Regions from separate parts of the Homo sapiens genome. Here region 1 is linked to region 2. The links come from fine-mapping of genetic effects on gene expression. Tissue or cell type: whole blood. Region 2 holds a variant in brackets; the other region holds the start of a gene. All regions are shown on one strand. Distances are from middle to middle.

Region 1 (2,500 bases), 62 kb before region 2:
AGTTCTCGCTTCCCCAAACAAAAGGGAAAAAAGTGCTTTTCGCCGTCACTTAGTCCTCCTTGTCGGCTACGCCAGCATAATTTCGGTCTCCTACGGAATTTCTTTAAACTAACGAGCCCCACACTGACTTCCACTTAGTATTGAACAGCTGCACCAACTCCCCAACCACGAAACCCCGCTTTAGTCCTCACGGGAGGGGAGAGCTCCCGAACGCGGGGCGGTGGGGGTCCGCGCAGAGCAGGCTCGGGAGGCCGAGCGGAGGAGCGGGGCCCGCGCCGGGCACACGCGTCCTCCAGGCCGGCGGCGCGGCGTGGGCCTGCTCTCGGGAGGGCTCGGCGAGGACCACCGAGTCCGCGCAGCCCCCGCCGACCTCTCGGAAATGTGACCGCCGAAGCTAGAGGGGCCGCAGGGCTCACCCCGCAGCCCTCCGCAACGCGCCAACTTGGACGCCAGCGGCGCGGGGTCCCGGCCGGGCAGGGGGCGTCCGGCACCGGCGGGTCCACCCCGGCCCGCCCGCCCGCCGCAAGCCCGGCCCGGCACCTCCTTTGTGCGCCCTCCTGGCCTCCCAGTCCCCCCGGCGCTCGGTCCCGCCCGGCCGTGACCTTCCCGCCCTCCCCACCATCCCAAGCGGGGAAAGGGGCCGCCCCGGCGGGGGTCGGGCCGGGGCCGGGGCCCTGGAGACGCTCACCTTCGTCCAGCAGCCGCTCGAGGTGGTTGAAGATCCCGCAGAAGTTGGGCAGGCTGCTCATGAGCTTCTTGTCGTTCATCAGCTGCATCAGGTAATCTGGGGTGGGCTTCGGCTTCTCCTTCGTTTCCATTTCCCCGACCATATTCCAGGCTCCGCAGCTCACTCCGCCCGCCGCCGCCGCCGCCGCCGCCGGAGAGGAGGGAGGGGCGGGGGCGAGCCCCGGCCGCGGGCCGCTCGGGACCCGGCGTCCCGCTCCGCGCCGGCTCCCGCTCTGGCTCCCGCGCCGAGCCCCGGGGCGGCCGGCACCGCGCGCTCGCCCGCCCCCCGCAGGCACTTTCCGCCCGGGCCCGACGCGCTCCCAGCCGCCGCCGCTCTCGGCCGCCCGGCTCGGCGCGTCCCTCACGAGGCCGGCGGGCGGGCGGGAGGCGGGTCTCGGCTGGCCGAGTGCGGGCGCGGGGCGCGGGCTGCTGGCGCCGGACGAGGAGGAGCCGGGGCCGCCGCTCGCTCGGCTGGTCGAGCCCGCTCAGCGCCGCCGCCGCCTGTGCCGCGGGCTCGGGGGGTCTCTCTGGGCTGGTCCCCGCCGCGGCGCCTCTGCCGCTGCCGCCGCGCTCCGACTGCGCTCCTCCTCTTCCTCCTCCTCCTTCTCCTCCTCCTCCTCCTCACTCACTTGGCGGCGGAGTTCGCCTCAGTTCAGGCGGCGCTGCCAGCGGCGGCGGCAGCAGCGGCGGCGGCGGGGGGAGGGGCAGCGGCGCGGGGAGGGCCGGGGGCGGGCGGCGGGCGGGGCCGCGCAGGGCGGCCGTTAGCGGGTCCCGGCCGGCGCGCTCCCGCTGCCTGCTGCCCGCCGCCCCGCGACCGGGGCAGCCGCCGGCGCCGCGCCCCCTCCTCCCTGCCTCCCCGGCGGGGCGGGCGACGGGGGCAACGGGAGTGTGACGGACTGCGGCGCTCGGCGGGCCTGGGCGCAAGGACTGGGTCGCCGCCGTGCGGGGCGCCCGGGGCGGGTGGGTGTGGGCTGCGGGGCCGACGGCCGCGGGGGGGGCGCGGGGCTTTCCACGGCACGGGGCGGGTGGGGCTGCGGGCGCGGTCGGGGCTGGCGCGGCAGGCGAGAGGAATTCCAGCGGGACGCGCCAGCGCTGCCTCCGCCTCGCCTCCCGTTACTATAGTTTTTTCAGAACCTCTTATCCACCCCGCAGAAGAGAAATTTTTTTTTAACGTCCTGTTGCTTCACGGGGGACTTTCGGGGTGGGCATCACGTGGCCCGACACGTAGCCGTGGGGCTCCAGAGCGCGTGCGCGCGTCGAGCCCGGTCGCCACGCCCCTTCCGAGGGTCGCTCCGCCCCCGTCGGGCCCCGCGAGCGCGCGGTGGGGGAGGGGAGGGCCCCGGAGCGCGCCTGCGTGGGGCGGGGGCGGCAGCCGACTAGGGGCTGGGTCTGGCCGTTTAGGGCCGGGTCTTGGCCCGTCGCCCACGGTGCGGAGGGCTGGTGGGCTTTCCTTGGCCGTCGGGCCCGCCACGGCGCGGGTCTTGGCTGCGGGGCGGAGGTGGGGCGGGAGAGCCGAGGATAAGAGTTTGAGGCTTTTCGAGGCGCGTGCCGCGGCGTCCGCCTCTGCGGGACTCTGCGCCGGGCGCCCTCGGCCGGCGCGCCCGGCTCCCGCTTTGTCGCCGAGGGAAGCACGCGCGACGCCCCTCCCGTCGCCGCCGTGGCTTCTTTCGGTGTTCGTGATTTGCTGAGAGGCTGGAAAGCAGCACGGCGGAGAGGAGCCTTGCACTCGCCAGGCGGGAAGCCTGCGCGGACACGCGTGCGCACCCACGGGGCG
Region 2 (2,841 bases):
AGACTCATTGCTGACGATGTTTAGGAAAGGTCAGGAATTCCAGTTTACCAAATTTTTCTTAGTTTTTTTAAACTTGGGTTTTGGCAAAGATTTTTGGCCTGAGAATGTGCCTCACCTTCAAACATTCAGAGGATGGTATAGAAAGTAAAGAGAATGAGGTGACGGCCCGGTGTGGTGGCTCACGCCTGTAATCCAAGCACTTTGAGAGGCCAAGGCGGGCAGATAACCTCAGGTCAGGAGTTCAAGACCAGCCTGGCCAACGTGGCGAAACCCCATCTCTACTAAAAATACAAAAATTAGCTGGGCATGGTGGTGCACGCCTATAATCCCAGCTACTAGGGAGGCTGAGGCAGGAGAATTGCTTGAACCCTGGTGGTGGAGGCTGCAGTGAGATGAGATCGTGCCAGTGCCTAAAAAAAAAAAAAAAAAAGGAAAAGAAAAAAAAGAAAGAAAAGAAAGAGATGAGTTGAAGTGTGTTTTTAAAAATTACACAAAGTTCATTTTCCAAGACTTTGCCACCACAGTGGATTTAATAGTATATCATTAATTCCAACATACTTATGATTTGATTTGCAAAACTTCTTTCAATGTAGGTATTTCTAGGGAAAGTGAAGTGTGAGGTTTCAGCCTGGCCACGGGTTTTTGATTCTGAGGGTCCCCTGGTTCCCCTGTCACAAATGCTGAAGGATACTCTCTATGGATTTTCTTGGGAGGGCTGAGGGGTGGGACTGAAAACGAGCCTGCAGGCACAGTGGCCCCCAGTTTCCTGGAGTCTCTTCCTGGGCTGCAGAACTCAGAGTTTCAGTCTGAATGTTGAGACACAGAGGCAGGAGAAGAGCTGTGGTGTTGGCGAATCTGTTCTAGCACTGAATGATGTCCTTTCTTCCCTGAACATCTTAGCAAGTCTTCTCTTGGTAACTGCAGATGGGACATTGGGATGTGGCCATGGACGCAGCAGTTCCTCCAGGGACTGTCCATGAGAGACAAGGAGGGAGACTGCAGAAGGCCTGTGGCTGACAGGGCCCTTCCTCCGCCACCTGGAAGTAGCTACTGTGATCTCCTTCTGGGCTGGCTGGGGACATGCATGTCTACTCTCGAAGGGCTGTGGTCTCGTAGAACACGGTGAGAGGCCAATGGGATATAAGGAGGGGTAGGGAGGTTGCACGGGTTGAAAGAAAAGACTCCGGGTTTGGACCTCAGGGCTGGTTCTTATTTGTTTTGCTGCCTTGAGGAAGAACATTGTTTAAGCTCTGTGACCCTCTGCTCCTATTTGCAAAATGCAGATGCTAATGTCCATCTTTTAGGGTGTTTGTGAGGCTGTGCCACTGTAAGTGCATATCATAGTGTCTGGCACATGGAGGTGCT[C/T]AACTCGTGGGGATTACTATGAAGATTTGGTGACTGCTGGGAAAGGCCCTACATTAAAATGCTCTTCCCCACTGACCTGTGTCCATGAACAAAACTCCTGCCACCACTGCGTCATTAGATTTTGTCCTTGGAATGCTCCTGTTAAGACACAAACCATCCTCCAGGGTCTGCGGGGAGAGAGTTGGGAAAGAAACGAATTGCCCAGGGGGAAACGCCTTTGGTGGAACAAGTTTATCAAGTCAGCCAGTCAGCCCTGACAACCGGACAGACTGACAGACCAGTTTAGAGGGGTGGTGTGAGAGCAGAAAGGAAGAGGCCTGGCCCCAGAGGAGCTGGGCGGGTGGAAGTGGGCAGGGGGGAGGGGCTTAAAGACTAAATTACAAAATATTTACAGTGCCCAAAGAGCTGAGAGACAGGGGATACATTTATCTTTAAACAATGTTAGTTGTTAGCAAATAATATGCTCATTGTATTCTTTGTTTTTTGGAGTCAGGATCTCGCTCTGTCACCCAGGCTGGAGTGCAGTGGCTGATCTGGGTCAGTGCAACCTCCGCCTCCTGGGTTTGAGCAATCCTCCTGCCTCAGCCTCCCGAGTAGTTGGGATTACAGGCATGCGCCACCACACCCAGCTAATTTTTGTACTTTTTTTAGAGACGGAGTTTTTGCGTAGGCTGAACTCCTGAGCTCAAGCGATCCACCCGCCTCCGAAAGTGCTGGGATTACAGGCGAAAGTCACTGAGCCCAGCCTGTATTTTTATTTAACTTCTGATAACTTTCTAGGTAAGGAGTTTTACATTTGAAACACTGGGTCCAAATGTCAATGTGTAAAAAAATAATAATAATAAACTACAGTAAATATGCTACAGGTGTCAAAGAATTCTGGAAACCCAGAAAAAAAATAGTAAATATATGTGGAGCAGGTGTGCATGGAAGGCACTTACCATATGGTACTGGACCAATATTTGTAGACTGATCGGGAAGAGGGGCCTTCCTAACCATCCAGCACCTGGGGCTCCTGGATAAATGATATGATGCCACAGGGCCTCAGATACAGAGCATTTTGCTATTTTCTTCTCATCTCAACCACCCCTCAATTGTTCACTGAGCACTTACTGTTTGTAAGGCACTGTGCTGGGCACTAGGAAGAATAAAAACTGAGAAATTGTGTCCCTCCTTGAAGAAGACACCTACTGGGCAGCCTTCTCAGCCAGTGACCCCCATTTTTAGCAAACTCCTTCTTCTAGCCTCTCCTTCCACCCCCTAAGCCAGGGACATAGCAGCCACATTTAGCTACATGACCTGCTTCCCCAAGCAAAGTTAATTTACCTGACTCAAGATGGGCCAGTCAAACTCTGTATTCCAGGAATTAGGCATCTGGATTCAGAGATACAAGTCAGCTTCAACTGCAGTTTCAACAGAGGACACATACACTCAGGGGATGCAGGAACATTGCATTTGGCTACGGACTTACCAAGG

What was found. PIP is the estimated chance that this variant, and not a neighbour inherited with it, causes the effect.
Region 1: it holds the start of QKI, and the variant in region 2 is fine-mapped to the expression of QKI in whole blood (INTERVAL, PIP above 0.99).

Annotation. Positions count from the first base shown.
Region 1 is chr6:163,413,524-163,416,023 of GRCh38, reverse strand. It overlaps QKI (QKI, KH domain containing RNA binding), which reads right to left and starts at 1,306. Exons shown (of 8, transcript NM_006775.3): 1 at 689-1,306. The coding sequence starts at 830. LOC124901234 (basic proline-rich protein-like) reads right to left here. Exons shown (of 4, transcript XM_047419614.1): 2 at 1,939-2,500; 3 at 1,356-1,775; 4 at 848-1,059. The coding sequence ends at 848. CAHM (colon adenocarcinoma hypermethylated) reads left to right here and starts at 2,074. Exons shown (of 1, transcript NR_037593.1): 1 at 2,074-2,500. RefSeq lists silencers at 288-477, 678-727, 978-1,797, 1,888-2,500 and enhancers at 748-1,401, 1,402-2,054.
Region 2 is chr6:163,351,306-163,354,146 of GRCh38, reverse strand. No RefSeq gene overlaps it. Among named protein-coding and RNA genes, the nearest start is that of DKFZp451B082, 5.7 kb to the right of the region's middle. The variant C/T (reference allele first, on the strand shown) is at 1,366.